Linked DNA regions of Homo sapiens. The protein of the gene in region 1 purifies or fractionates together with the protein of each later gene. This does not show direct contact. Each region holds a gene or a part of one and is shown in the gene's direction. Other genes may lie near its edges.

What was found. Proteins that work in one complex are often made in the same cells at the same time.
Region 2: the proteins of UBXN6 (region 1) and POR purify together in Homo sapiens (affinity purification with mass spectrometry; 4 studies listed by BioGRID and IntAct, with this or other methods). This does not show direct contact.

What each region holds. Positions count from the first base shown.
Region 1 is NC_000019.10:4,447,550-4,455,017, reverse strand, and holds part of UBXN6 (UBX domain-containing protein 6), read left to right. Parts: intron 1-924; coding exon 925-1,088; intron 1,089-1,495; coding exon 1,496-1,560; intron 1,561-2,525; coding exon 2,526-2,654; intron 2,655-4,187; exon of another isoform or gene 4,188-6,602; coding exon 6,603-6,700; exon of another isoform or gene 6,701-7,392; coding exon 7,393-7,468. UniProt on the Homo sapiens protein: May negatively regulate the ATPase activity of VCP, an ATP-driven segregase that associates with different cofactors to control a wide variety of cellular processes.
Region 2 is NC_000007.14:75,910,543-75,918,404, forward strand, and holds the start of POR (NADPH--cytochrome P450 reductase), read left to right. Parts: upstream 1-4,612; 5' UTR 4,613-4,637; exon of another isoform or gene 4,638-5,225; intron 5,226-7,862. UniProt on the Homo sapiens protein: This enzyme is required for electron transfer from NADP to cytochrome P450 in microsomes. It can also provide electron transfer to heme oxygenase and cytochrome B5.

The sequences.
Region 1 (7,468 bases):
AGTGGCCAGGGCGAGGCTGGTTCTGCTGTCCGCTCTCCCCAGGGTCCCGCCACGAGGGTGGCGTGGCATGGGGCACATCGCCCGGACTTCCTGTCCCTCTTGGGTTTAGGAATGGGATGGTGAGGCCTCCCTGGCAGCTTGTTAGGAGGAGTAAACCAAGCGAGCCGACCAGCTCCCAGCAGGGTCCTGGCACACAGTAGGTGCTCAGCAAACGAAGCTGTGACCTGAGGGTGGAGAGTCTTATGGCAGGGAGGGAGGGAGGATGTGACACCCCTTGAGTCTCCTCAATTCCTGAGGATGCGGGCTGGGTGCTGTGGCTCATGCCTATAATCCCAGCAGTTTGGGAGGCCACGGTGGGAGGATCATTTGAGGCAAAAGTTCGAGACCAGCCTGAGCTACATAGCGAGACCCTGTCTCGATAGAAAAATTAGCCAGGCATGATGATGCTTGCCTCTAAGTCCCAGCGACTTGGGAGGCTGAGGCGGGAGGATTCCTTGAGCCTGGGAGCTCAGGATTGCAGTAAGCCATGATCGTGCCACTATACTCCAGCCTTGGTGAGAGAGCAAGACCCTGTCTCAAAAAGAAAAAAAGCACTGAGGATGTCAAGGTGCCTTCACCTCAGGAGGGGTGCTGTCACCCCATTTTACAGATGAGGACGCTGAGGGCCAGTGGGGGCAGGACTTGCCCGATGGTGCAGAGCTGAGTGGAACCAGCATCTCCTTCCTCCAGGGGCTCTTCCGCCTGCAGTAGAACCATCTGGTGGCTGCAGGTGGCCCCTGGGAACCAGGTGTCCTGGCCCACATAGGCAGGGACACGTCTGGCTGATGGTGCTGGGGAGGGGCAGAAGCTCCTCTGTGTGACTGCACGTCAGCTTTGCCGGCCACCTCGGGAGGATACACTCACTCTCCCTCGGTCTGTTCCCAGGGAAAAGGCCCACAAAGAGAAGCCCAACCAGCCAGCCCCCAGGCCGCCCCGCCAGGGACCCACCAATGAGGCACAGATGGCAGCCGCTGCCGCCCTAGCCCGGCTGGAGCAGAAGCAGTCCCGGGCCTGGGGCCCCACATCGCAGGACACCATCCGAAACCAGGGTGAGATATGGCCCTCCTCGGGCCCAGGTTGGGGCTGTTTGAGGTTCTCGGCCCTGGTGCCTGGCCCTGGATGCAGAAGTCACATGAGCAACCGTGGGGGTGTGAGGGTCACCCTTGGGAGCGGCTCATCAAGGGCAGGTGCTGGGGGAAGGGCAGCTTCCTGGGGAGGGGGTGGGAGCAGAGACTTGGAGCAGAAACGGGCTGCCCAGGCAGTGGGGTGCTTGCTCAGGCTGAGGGGTGGCTGCACAGCAAGTCCTGCAGGGGACCTCCAGCCTGACCTCCAGCAGAAGCAGGCTGGGGCGGTGTGCGTGGCCCCCAGGCCCACCCCGGGAATGAGGGGGCTTGGGCCAGGACAGCGGCGTGCTCACTATCCCGTCTCTGCCTCTCTTTCTTGGGCTGCCTTCCAGTGAGAAAGGAACTTCAAGCCGAAGCCACCGTCAGCGGGAGCCCCGAGGCCCCAGGGACCAACGTGGTAAGAACAGCCACTGGTGGCACTGTCCCATGCCAAGGGGTGGGGACAGCTTGACTGTGTCACGGGGGAGATGTGGCCTCTGCCCTTGGGGCTCAAGGGCTGTTGGAAAACCTTGCCTTGCAAGGTGGACACAGGTTGTGGTGGAACACGGTGTTGTCTGGGACCTTCGGGGCTCGGCAGCTGAGGATGCCGGCTCAGGCCTGGAGAAGTGGGCCTCAGGTACACGAGCCCATCGCTCCCTCCCCTTAACCCCTTAAGGGCAGATGCAGTTACAGTTTCCACTATTCAAAAAGAGAACCGGGGTTGAGAGAGGTGAAACCAGCTGTCCTCTCTCCTACACCCCAGGACCAGCAAAGGCAGGACCAGAGCCAGTCTGTGGTTTCAGAGCCTGTCCCCTAGCACTGCCCAGTCCTGCCTGCCTTGGAGGTCAAGAGGCTCTGTGGAGACGGGTGGAATCAGGGAGGCCTTCCTCTAGGAGGTGGGCCTTCAGAGCTCCGCTGAAAGGAGTTCTAAGCAGCTTGACCCTCGAGGATTCAGTGAATTTTAGCACGCAGGGACCTTAGAGATGGCCTAGAAATGGAGGCCCAGAAGTCATGCCTTGTCCAGCGCACTGTGCCCGCAGACACCCACACAGAGCTCCTTCCTCAACAGCTTGGGGACAGGACCAGCAGGAACCCAGCTGCCATCTGCTGGGTGTTTCCTGCGTGTCAGAAGCTGCTCCGTACTTTCCGTTCCTTACCTCGTTTAGTTCTGAGCAGGCCCCACAGGGACATTTGACATACCAGGGAAAAGACTCGGGGATCCGGTCACTTGGCCAGGGTGTCTCCCACGGCCACCAGGTGGAAGGGACAGCATGGGGGCTGGAGATGTCTGGTTCTACGGGCCACACTCAGGACTGTGGTGCTCGGCGAGGGTCGGGGTGGCCTCTGTCCACGGTCCAGACTTGGACGCTTTCACCGCCCCAGGTATCTGAGCCCAGAGAGGAAGGCTCTGCCCACCTGGCTGTGCCTGGCGTGTACTTCACCTGTCCGCTCACTGGGGCCACCCTGAGGAAGGACCAGCGGGACGCCTGCATCAAGGAGGCCATTCTCTTGGTGAGTGGCACCCTGTGTGCTCCTGCCCCAACCTGTAGCTTCCTGTGCCTGAGCCACCCTCCATCGGAAGCCCAGGTGGTACAGATCCCTCCCAGAGTCCCCAGAGGCCACTGCTAGTAGTGAAGCCCCTCCTCTGATACCCCAAATCCAGGCACACCATTGTGTATGCATCTGTATCTCCTCTCTCCCAACTAGGTGTCTTTTTTTTTTTTTTTGAGATGGAGTCTCACTCTGACACCCAGGCTGGAGTGCAGTGGCGCATTCTCGGCTCACTACAACCTCCGCCTCCTGGATTCAAACGATTCTCGTGCCTCAGCCTCTCAAGTAGCTGGGATTACAGGCACCTGCCACCATGCCTGGCTAATTTTTGTATTTTTAGTAGAGATGGGGTTTCACCATGTTGGCCAGGCTGGTCTCGAACTTTTGCCTCAAGTGATCAACCCGCCTCAGCCTCCCAAAGTGCTAGGATTACAGACGTGAGCCACCACGCGTGGCCTGGTTGTTTTTCATAAAAGGTTAAGTATTATTTGCTTCAATACAGAAAGAACTTCCTACAAAATTAGCCAGGCATGGTGGCACATGCCTGTAATCCCAGCTACTCGGGAGGCTGAGGCAAGAGAATTGCTTGAATCCAGGAGGCAGAGGTTGTGGTGAGCCGAGATAGCGCCATTGCACTCCAACCTGGGCAACAAGAGCAAAACTCCATCTCAAAAAATAAAAACGTCCACAGCATTTTTTTCCAATACAGCAAGTCCTCACTTAACACCATCAATAGGTTCTCAGAAACTTCGGCTTTAGCCTGGGCAACATGGCAAAACCCTGTCTCTGCCAAAAACAAAAAAAAATAGCTGGGCATGGTGGCGTGCACCTGCAGTCCCTGCTACTCAGAAGGCTGAGGTGGGAGGATTGCTTCAGCCTGGGAGGTAGAGGCTGCAGTGAGCTGTAATCATGCCACTGCACACCAGCCTGGGTGACAAGTGAGACCCTTTCTCAGAAAATAGTAAGTGGCTGGGCGCGGTGGCTCTTGCCTGTAATTCCAGTGCTTTGGGAGGCTGAGGCAGGTGGATCACCTGAGGTCAGAAGTTCCAAGACCAGCCTGGTCAACATAGTGAAACCCCCTATCTACTAAATATACAAAAATTAGCCAGGCGTGGTGACAGGCGCCTGTAATCCCAGCTACTCAGGAGACTGAGGCAGGAGAATCGCTTGAACCTGGGAGGTGGAGGTTGCAGTGAGCCCAGATCACGCCATTGAGCTCCAGCGTGGACACTGGGTGACAAGAGCGAAACTTCATCTTAAAAACAAAACAAAACAAAATAGTAATAGTTCCATAGACTCTCCAGACTCACACCCACTCCAGCAGTGTGTGCAAAAGCACCCGTGTCCCCATCCTCTCACCATACTGTAAATCACCAAACTTTGATCTTTACGCCTGTTGGTAGGTGAAAATAACATCTCAGGATAGAGTTAATTTGCACTTTCCTTATTTTGGATTGGCCATGTTTCATATGAGAATGCGTCCTTTCTACATTATTTAGTAGATAGTTTGTCTTTTTATTAGTGATTTGTAGGCACTCTTTTTTTTTTTTTTTTTTTTTTTTTTTTGAGACAGAGTCTCGCTCTGTCGCCCAGGCTGGAGTGCAGTGGCGCCATCTCTGCTCACTGCAAGCTCCGCCTACGAGGTTCACACCATTCTCCTGCCTCAGCCTCCCGAGTAGCTGGGACCACAGGCGAACCGCCACCACGCCCAGCTGATTCTTTGTATTTTTAGTAGAGACGGGGTTTCACCATGTTAGCCAGGATGGTCTCGATCTCCTGACCTCGTGATCCGCCCGCCTCGGCCTCCCAAAGTGCTGGGATTACAGGCGGGAGCCACCGTGCCCGGCAGCACTCTTTACATATTAGGCAATTTAGGCTTTTGCCTATGATATGAGTTGCACATGTTTCCCTCTAGTTGCTTCTATGTTGGCTCTGCTTATGGTCACTTTGCTGTGTAGGATTTTTTGATCTCTGTATAATTAAATGTGTCAGTTTTAGTTCATGGCTTTTGGGTTTGGGGTCATTCTTAGAAATGCCTTCCCCATTTCCATGCTGAGAGAATTCTTTTGTGGCCTCTCCAGTGCTTTTTTTTTTTTTTTTTTTGAGACAGAGTCTTGCTGTCACCAGGCTGGAGTGCAGTGGTGCAATCTCAGCTCACTGCAACCTCTGCTTCCCGGGTTCAAGCAATTCACCTGCCTCAGCCTCCCAAGTAGCTGGGACTACAGGTGCACGCCACCACACCCGGGCTAACTTTTGTATTTTAGAGATGAGGTTTCACCATGTTGGCCGGGATGGTCTCGCTCTCCTAATCTCGTGATCCGACCGCCTCGGCCTCCCAAAGTGCTGGGATTCCAGGCATGAGCCACCGTGCCCGGCCTCCAGAGCTTTTCTTCTGGCTTCTCCTTGACTGCTTGCTTGTTTCCATGGTTGAAGCTTTGATCCAGCTGGAGCATGTTATTATGTAACATGGTGGGATGGAGCTGATGTAATTTTTTTTTTAGATCTTGGCTCAGCTTTCTTCTCAGCCCCACCTGTCGAGAGCACCTGTCTTTTGCTTACAGCTGTGAAATCCCACCTTTCTCACAAAGTACATTCCTGTATGGATTTGGACCCCTTCCTGGCTGCTGTTCCTTCGTCCCTTGTCTGTGCATGTACCCAGCTCCTGACCTAAGCCTGGCAGCCAGTCGCCCAAAACGCCCGAGGCCCGCTTTTGGAGCTGACACGCTTCCCTTGGCTGGTGTGCTGTCCCGGGCGCTCTGATCCCAAGGAAGCTGTTGTCTTGGGGACATGCCCATCTGGCAGCTCTGCCTCTCTGCATCCACGTGCTCTGTCCCGCTCCCCACATCATCTCAGCAACTAAACCGGCAGACTGGGCCGGGTCCCAATTTTCAGTTGGCATGAGCCCCGGCTCAGTGTGTAGGTCATTGGTCCGTGTGACGCAGGGGGCTGCTGAGGGACCCTGCTGTGCAGTTGAGGGTGGGGGGTGGTGGGTGGAGCTCTGGGCTGCCTGGGCAGGTGGCCCGAATCCTGACACATGGCCCTGGGCTGCCCTTCTGTTCACCCGCCCTCGTCTGGGCAGCCCAGGGAGGTGCGGGTGGCAGCCCTGCTTCCCAGGCCATGGGTGGCTCTCTGGGTGTGGCCGTGTGTGATGGCTGTGCCGAGCGTGGATTTGTGCCCCAATCTTTTCCAGGTCTTAGGGTACGTACTGTTCTCAGCCTCTCCATGCTGGGACGCTGTTCGCAGTCAGCAGGGCTGGTTCTGGGAAACCCCCAGAGTTCCAGCTATGACTTCTCCCCTCCCCCGGTAACATAGGTGGATAGGTGGGACCTCGGGGAGGGGCAGGGGCTGGGGGTATCCGTCTTCCAGCTATTGAGTTTCAGACATTGAGGGTTGCAGACTCATTTGTGTCCTCTCTGCCACCTGCCATCCCTGTGACCCTGGACGATGGGCCTCTCGGTCTCTTTGTAAACATGAGGCCCGGGAGTGGTTCCAGAACGTCCATCATGGGGCTGCGAGAGCAGGAGGGATGGGGCGTCCATGGTGGCGGGAGGTTCTGTAAGTGGCGGTGGCCTTGATGGATCTCAGCACTGAGGTCGAGTTCTAAAGCCAGAGTGTGAGGCACAGTTCTGTCGCGTCACACTGGCTTCCAAGTCCCATGGATCTAGCCTTGAGAAGGCGGAAGGGGAGACTTGAGTTCTGCTGGGTCTTGGCTGCGTCGCCTCTGCCCTGGGGCGTGGGCAGGGCTGCGGTCTTGGAGGGTCTCTCTTTTCCTTTCTGTGATGAGCGCACAGCTGGGGCCGCTCCAAGCCGCTGTTCTGCCTTCCTTTTCCTGCCCCTGTTACCTGGGCAGCGGAGGGCCGTGCGGCCCGGGCTCTCAGTGAGTGGCTTTCCCTGCTTCCCTCCTCCCAGCACTTCTCCACCGACCCAGTGGCCGCCTCCATCATGAAGATCTACACGTTCAACAAAGACCAGGACCGGGTGAAGCTGGGTGTGGACACCATTGCCAAGTGAGCGTGTGGCCCCTTTGCCCTGCCTGGCCCCTCCAGCTCATCCCAGCACCCCTCCCACTGGGGCTGTCACCCCCTCTGGCCCCCTCATTACCTGCTGAGGTGGGTTGGGAAGGAGCATAGGCCGAGAGTGAGGCAGCTCCACCCAGAGGCCTCAGGCAAAGGGCTGGGCCTCCTTGGGCCTCAGTTTACCCGTGTGCAAAATGAAGGTGTTGAAGGAATCAGGGGTTTCCCACCCTGGCTTCCTTGGGGAACATGTGGAGGAGGCAGGGTCCCACCCCACTCCCCGGGTCTCAGGATCGGGGGCAGGCCTGGAGGTCCACGCTGCCCGCCAACGCCGAGGGAGCACCCCGCAGGAGCCCCCTGCTGGCACTGCGGCCCTTCAGCTCTGGCTCTCCACTCTTCCGGCACTGTGGCTTCCCCACCGCTGTGGTTAATTGTGCCCTTCCAGGGCTGGTGGGACGGTGAGGGGTTCCGTGGGGCTCCTGCTGGCACCAGGGGTGGGCTCCATGGGGTGTCCGAGGTGTGCCTTCCACCCGGAGATGGTCTGCTGCCCTCGCGTCACTGGGCCGCTTCTTCCCTCTGACTAGAGGCCAAGTGTGGCTGAGCTGCTGTTACCTGGAGCAGGAGGCACAGAGGGGCCGGGTGGGCAGCCTGGGCTGTGCCCCACTCACCTTCTCCACCTACCCCAGGTACCTGGACAACATCCACCTGCACCCCGAGGAGGAGAAGTACCGGAAGATCAAGCTGCAGAACAAGGTGTTTCAG
Region 2 (7,862 bases), on another chromosome or scaffold:
GCCCAGGAGGCAGAGGTTGTAGTGAGCCATGATCATGCCACTGTACTCCATCCTGGGCGACAGAGCAAAACCCAGTCTCTAATTTAAAACAAAAAAAGGTATTTATGTATTTGACTTAGAATAAGTAATACATTCATAAGGTACAAAATTTGAATGATACAGAGTAGTATATAGTGAAATATATTCCTTTGCCCCTGGTCTCCCTCCTCCCAGTTCTCCAGAGACAACCAACCTTACCTCCCTCCCTTTTTTTTTTTTTTGTTTTTGTTTTTGTTTCAGGAGGTATTTCATGCACATACAGGCAAATATGTATACCTAGTATCTATGTTCTTCCCTCATTTCCCACCACAATTGTTTGAGAACATACAAACGGTAACATTCTATACCTACTGTTCTGTACCTTGCATATTTATCAATTTGTCTCAGAGATTTTTCTGTTTAAGCAATGAGCTTCCTTCCTTGTTTGTTTGTTTGTTTGAGACAAGAGTCTCACTCTGTCACCCCGGCTGGAGTGCAGTGGTGCACCCTTGGCTCACTGCAAACTCCGCCTCCCAGGTTCAAGCGATTCTCCTGCCTCAGCCTCCCGACTAGCTGGGATTACAGGCGCCCACCACGCCCAGCTAATGTTTTGTATTTTTAAGAGACGAGGTTTCACCATGTTGGCCAGGCTGGTCTCAAACTCCTGACCTCAAGTAATCTGCCTGCCTCGGCCTCTCAAAGTGTTGGGATTACAGGTGTGAGCCACCGTGCCCTGCCGGCCCCTTGTTTGTTTGTTTTTGTTTTTTTGAGACGGAGTCTCAGTCTGTTACCCAGGCTGGAGTGCAGTGGCGCAATCTCAGCTCACTGCAACCTCTGCCTCCCGGGTTCAAGCCATTCTCCTGTCTCAGCCACCCCTGGGACTACAGGCATGTGCCACCATGCTCAGCTAATTTTTGTATTTTTAGTAGAGACGGGGTTTCGTCATGTTGGCCAGGCTGATCTCGAACTCCTGGGCTCTAGCGATCCTCCCACCTCAGCCTCCCAAAGTGCTGGGATGACAGGCGTGAGCCACTGTACCCAGCCCAGATTATTTCTCAATGTTTTCATTTATGGCTTCTGGAGTTTATGTCATAATTTCATAATTTAGAAATGCCTCTTGGGGATTATTAACACCAATTCTCCCATGGACTTTTGGGGGCTTTTTTTTTCCTTCTCCCTTAAAAAATCATTTAAATATTTTATCTATCTGGAATTTATATTAGTGTAATATGTGAGATGTGGATGCAACCTACTTTTTTTCCCCCCAGCTGGCCAGCGAGAGTGTTTTTTCGGGGTGGGGGTGGGGAGGGAAGGAGAGGAAGGTAGGACAATGAGGAGGACAGTAACTGAAGAAGAGAAGCTTTCAGCTCGGTGTGGTGGCTCACGCCTGTAATCCCAGCACTTTGGGAGTCTGAGGAGGATGGATCACCTGAGGTCAGGAGTTCGAGACCAGCTTGGCCAACATGGCAAAACCCCGTCTCTACTAAAAATACAAAAATTAGCCAGGTGTGGTGGTGCACACCTGTGATCCCAGCTACTCAGGAGGCTGAGGCAGGAGAATCGCTTGAACCCAGGAGGTGGAGGTTGCAGTGAGCCTAGATCTCACCACTACACTTCAGCCTGGGTGTCAGAGTGAGACCCTGTCTCAAAAAAAAAAAAAAAAAAAAAAAAAAAAAAAAGAGGCTTCCTTGCCAGTGGGTGTAGCAGAAACGAGAAGTGACATAAACAGTCAGGAAGCCGGCTAGGTGCGGTGGCTCACACCTGTAATCCCAGCACTTTGGGAGGCCAAGGCAGATGGATCACCTGAGGTCAGGAGTTCGAGAGCAGCCTGGCCAATATGGTGAAACCCCATCTCTACTAGAAATACAAAAATTAGCCGGGTGTGGTGGCACAAGTCTGTAATCCCAGCTACTCAGGCAGCTGAGGCAGGAGAATCGCTTGAACTCAGGAGGCAGAGGTTGCAGTGAGCTGAGATGGTGCCCCTGCACTGCAGCCTGGGTGACACAGTGAGACTCCATCCCCCCCAAAAAAGTCAGGAAGCTGCTGAGATCATCCAGGTGAACGGTGAACCCACGTGGCCCCAACTGGAACAGGGACAGCAGAAAAGATGACAAGAGGAGGTTCTGGAGATAGAATCCATAGGACCCAGTTATTGGTTCAATGGGAAAAGGCCAAAGAGGTAAAATGCCTGTTTCCTGATGTTTCCTTAGTGATGCTATATTATTAGCAGACAGAGAAGACTCAGTGTTTTAGGAGTTCTGGTTTCAAAAAAAGCAGGGGGCATGGAGTCAAAGTCCAAATTTGAAGCCTCACTGGGACATCCTGGGGAGATGTCCAACAGGGTGTTGAAAAGATGGCACAGAGTATCAGATATCTGGGTGAATTTCTCCACAGCTCTCTCTCTGGGTGAGTGTGGAGTTCAGTCCCTTCTTTGGACAGGTATTGTGCCCCACCCTGAGGGCTACTGCATTCATCCAACCTGTTGGAGGGACTGGTTCCTGGACATAGGAAACCTGGCACCTGGGCCATGGTAATAATCTCTTTATATAGGATTTTGCTATTTTCACAATATTTTAAAGATGAAGAGTGGATGGGAATGGTGGCTCACATCTGTAATTCCTGCACTTTGGGAGGCCGAGGCAAGGGATCCCTTGAGGCCAGGAGTTCAAGACCAGGTTGGGCAACATAGCGAGACTCTGTCTCTACAAAAAATTTAAAAATTAGGCTAGGTGCAGTGCTCACACCTGTAATCTCAGCACTTTGGGAGGCCAAGGTGGGAGGACTGCTTGAGGTCTGGAGTTTGAGACCAGCCTGGGAAACATGGCAAAACACCATCTCTACAAAAAAATTTCAATCAACTTTCTTTAAAATGAAAAATAAAAATACAAAAATTAGCCAGTTGTGGTGGCGCATGCCTGTAATTCCAGCTACTAGGGAGGCTGAGGCAGGAGGATCACCTGAGCCCAGGAGGTCGAGGCTGCATCCCAGCCTCAGCGACAAAGGGAGACCCTGTTTCAAAAAATAAGTAACATATATGTTATTATATAATATATATTATTTATATAATATATAAATATAACAAATATAACATTTATATAATATATAAATGTTATATTTATGTATTATTTTATAAATTAACTTTTTTTTTTTTGTGAGACGGAGTGTCACTCTGTCGGCCACACTGGAGTGCAGTGGTGTGAACTGGGCTCACTGCAACCTCTGCCTCCGGGGTTCAAGTGGGTCTCCTGCCTCAGTCTCCCCAGTAGGTGGGATTACAGGCACCCGCCACCATGCCCAGCTAATTTTTGTATTTTTAGTAGAGACGGGGTTTTGCCATGTTGGTCAGGCTGGTCTCGAACTCCTGACCTCAGGTGATCCGCCCACCTCAGCCTACCAAAGTTCTGGGATTACAGGCGTGAGCCACCGTGCCTGGGCTATTTTTAAAAGATGGAGAAGGGGCTCTGAGAGAAGTGAGTTGCACAGTGTTGCAAAAGGAATTCACAGCACAGCTAGTAATAATAGTAGTAGTAGTAATAATAACAATGGCGATGAGAACACTTAGTAATGCCGTGCTCTAAATCCTTTAGGAACAAAGGTTATACCACTTAATCTTCATGACCCTGTAAAGTAGAAACCATAGCAGGAGGCAGAGGTGGGCTTCACTCCCCAACCAAGGCTGCCAGACTTTTCAAACCCCAGAAGCTCTCTGTATCCCCCCACTCCTCTTCCATCCAGGGCTTGCCTCCTGCTTGGTCACTTCCCACCCCCAACAGGCCGGCCTTCAAAAGCGAGCTCTAGGCAGCGTGTGGGACCTCACGCCTGTAATCGCAGCGCTTTGAGAGGCCGAGGAGGGAGGATCACTTGAGACCAGTTCGAGACCAACCTGGGCATCATAGCGAGACCGCATCTCTGCAAATAAAATAAAATAAAATTAGCTAGGTGTGGTGGCGCGCCTGTAGTCCCAGCTACTGGGAGGCTGAAGTGGGAGAATCGCCTGAGCACAGGAGTTGAAGGCTGCAGTGAGCTGTGACTGCACCACTGCAATCCAGCCTGGGCGACAGAACGAGACCCTGTCTCTAAAAACAAACGCGCGCCCTCCGCCGTCAGGCTGGATGGAGGGAACCCAGGGAGACGACTTGGGCCTGAAGCCTCGCCAATTTCAGGTGAGGAAACAGGGCCGTGGAGGAGACAATGTGGCGATCACAAGCAAGCGGCGGCCCGAAGGAGGAGGCTAGACCGGCGGGCGCACAGCCACAGTTCTGCAGTGATCCCCGGGAAGGTGGGCAGCCGGCCCGGTGACCTGCAGGGTCCGAGCTGTAGAAGCCGCAGCCGCCGTCTCCAGGCGACTCCGCCACCCCCGGAACCACGCACTTTCATTTCTCTGCCGGGCGACCCAGCCGAGCCGCGAGGGGGCGTGGCCGGGCCGGGCCGTACCAAGAGCGCAAATTTGCAGGGGGAAGCGCGGGGCTCCGGGAATGCACGCGCGGCTCGAGTGGGCGGGGCGGCGGCCCAATGGCCACGCCCCCACCCCCGCGGCCGGCGAAGGCGGTGGTAGCGCCTCAGTGGTGTGGGCCTGAGCCCTGCCCAGGTGCCCGCAGAGAGCAGCCGGGCTGCCAGCGGTGAGTGCTATCTTTCGCGGCGACGGCGGGGTGGGTGAGGTCGGGCCCCAAGACTCGGGGTTTGCCGGGCGCCTCAGTTCACCGCGGCCGCCTGGCTCTCTGCGTCGGGGTGGGCCCTCGGGCCTGGGCACTGCGCGTCTGGCCCGACGCTCGGGCGGAAGGCATGGCTCCCACCCCGGCCCTCCTCCGCGTCGCCCTTCCCCTAGAGCTGATCTCCCGCGGCGGCCTGAGGGTCGACTTTTCCACAGCTTGGGCCGAGAGAGCCCGGCAGGCCCTCGGCTGAGGGTTAGGGCTCGGTATCTCAGGGCTCGGGGTCCAGTCCCCGCGCCGCCGCCCCCCACGGGCTAAGCCACTTTAACTCTCCGAGCCTCAGTTTCCCCATCTGTACGATGAATGGGCCTCGGGAGGCAGCGAATTCTGGGGGTACCTAACGTGAGAGGCGCTCGATGCATGCTCATGGGACCCGAATCTAACCCTGCAGCATCAGGTGGGCTGAGTCGATGGATCACGGGAGCCCCCCAGCCCGGCCTGCATCCCTGAGGGCAGTGCCCCTCGCAGTCAGGTGTCTCGGCGGCCCCCACAACACAGGTACCCGGATCTCCTGGGGGAGCCGGGACACCCTTAGATCGGGGGAGCAATTGGGTAAGAGTTCAAGGTCTCTTGGGCGCCAGGGGGAGGAGAGTAGAGGTTTCAGTGAGCTTGATTGACTTCGACTTTCTGCGTATTGTTTTTCAAAACGAGTTACCCTTGTGTAAACTGGTGACCACTAATAAGGAGTTTGGGGCTGTTTCAATGAAAGTGGCTGTCTCCTCTCTTAAACCCTTAAAGCTGCAGCCTTGCCTTGCCTTGCCTCTGAGCTTGGCCAAGCTGGAGAATGATGCCAGCACAAAAGGAGACAGGACTGGACTGGGTGGCCCTGGTTTGATTCTTGGCAAGCAAGATACCTCCTGGAGCCTCCGTTTTCTGATCAGTGGGTCTGGTAGTAAGACAGCCACCCTGCTCTCCCCACAGGGTTGAGATTCTGAGGATCAAGACAGGGTCCCAGAGAGTGGCATCGAGAACTTTAATCCTCCTTGTAAGCAGAACGTTTATGGAACCCTCTGGGGGATCCAGTATCCCCACCGTTGTTCACTGCTGTAATTCCTTGGGTCTTGCTTTATGGAGAAGGCATTGATTCATTAACCATTTGCAAGTTCTACCTACGGAAATCCCTTTTGAGTGGTTATGGGGTTGGCTTGGTCAGGAGAACAGCTCCAAAGGCCCAGTTAGTAAACCAGGGAACCCAGAAAGGTCCACTTCCTTTTTTTTGGGAGGAGGGCTGTTTTAGGAGTTCTTATTTTCCTTTTAAGAGAGTGGTTTTTGAGCTACTTATGACCTTCATGCCATCTAATGTTGGAAACTTTCGCTGAGCAGATAGCTTATTATAAAAAGTATTTGTACAACATCCGCATTTCAGAGAATGGGATGCTAGCTGCCAGTTGCGTGGTGGTGTGGAAACTTAGGAGTGATCTTAATTTTCCAAAATTCTTCAGGTCTAGCACTTGAAGAAATAATAGGTAGATTTGAAATGAAACAACCCAGGGATATTCCTGAAAACAGCAGCATTGACCGCAGCCAATGTAAATCAGGTGTGGATCGTCCTGGGTAGTAGGAGTTTATAAATGCCACAGAGGATGTTTGCTGCCAGACATACCTGAATTTTAGGACCTGCTGTTGGTTAACTCTGGGTTGATCCACCCTTAACCCCTTGAAAATCAGAATCTGTGTTAGGTAAGTCTGTGTATGATTAGGAGACAGGCCAATTGAAATCAAAACTGCTTGGCAAATCCAGAACATTTACTCGTGAAGTCCATGGAACATTTCAAGTTAAAAATAATTTAGCTTTTAAGTAACTTTTTTTTTTTTGTGAGACAGGTCTCACTCTGTCGTGCAGGCTGGAGTGCAGTGGCGCAATCATAGCTCACTGCAGCCTCAACCTCCAGGATTCAAGCAATCCTCCCTCCTCAGCCTCCCAAGTAGTTGGGAGTACAGGCACGCACCACCACACCCAGCTAATTTTTTAAATGTTTTTTAGAGATTTGGTTTGCCATGTTGCCCAGGCTGGTCTCGAATTCTGGGGTTCAAGTGGTCCTCCTGCTTTGACCTCCTAAAGTGCTGAGATTACAGGTGTGAGCCACCGTTCCTGGCTTTCTTATTTCTTCTTCTTTTTTTTTTTTTTTTTTCTGATGGAAGCTCTTGAAGTTATAGGACCTTTCATGGTTCCAGAGAGGCTGGCCGCCCCTACAAGAGCTTCGATGTCCTTGTGCTTTAGGGAGGAGCCAGAGAAACAGAGGTCAAGCTCTGGCACTAGCACCGTGTGTGGCCTCAATTGAGCATGTTGGGATTTAACTTTCTGTTATATGTCAGACTCACTTAAAAATTAAAGTTAGAAAAAGGTGAAATGGAGAAATGACAATTTTCTTTTCTTTTCTTTTCTTTTTTTGAGATGGAGTCTCGCTCTGTCGCCCAGGCTGGAGCGCAGTGGGCTCAGTGCAGCCTCCACCTCCCCCAGGTTCAAGCAATTTTCCTTGCTTGAATTCTGCCTCAGCCTCCTGAGTAGCTGGAATTTCGAGTACCCACCACCTGGCCAAAGATTCTGTGCTCATTAGCACACAGCCTCCCAGGTGGCTACAGCCTTAAAAGACTTTCAAATGCCAATTCTAGGCTGGGAACAGTGGCTCACGCCTGTAATTCCGGCACTTTGGGAGACCAAGGTGGGTGAATTGCTTGAGTCCAGGAGTTTGAGACCAGCCTGGGCAACACGGCGAATCCCTGTCTCTATAAAAAAAATACAAATACAAAAATTGACTGGGCATGGTGGCTCACGCCTGTAATCCCAGCACTTTGGGAGGCCGAGGCAGGCAGATCACTTGAGGTCAGGAGTTCGAGACCAGCCTGGCCAACGTGGTGAAACCCCGTCTCTACTAAAAATACAAAAATTAGCCGGTGTGGTGGTGTGCACCTGTAATCCCAACTACTCAGGAGGCTGAGGCAGAAGAATCACTTGAACCTGGGAAGCGGAGGTTGCAGTGAGCCGAGATCGTGCTGCTGCACTCCAGCCTGGGTGACAGAGTGAGACTCTGTCTCAGAAAAAAAAACCCAAAAAACAACAACTTGTTTTGCTGTGCAGTTTTGTCATCTGGCATTGGGCAGAAATTTGGACCCGCCGGGCAGGTGGGAGAAGCA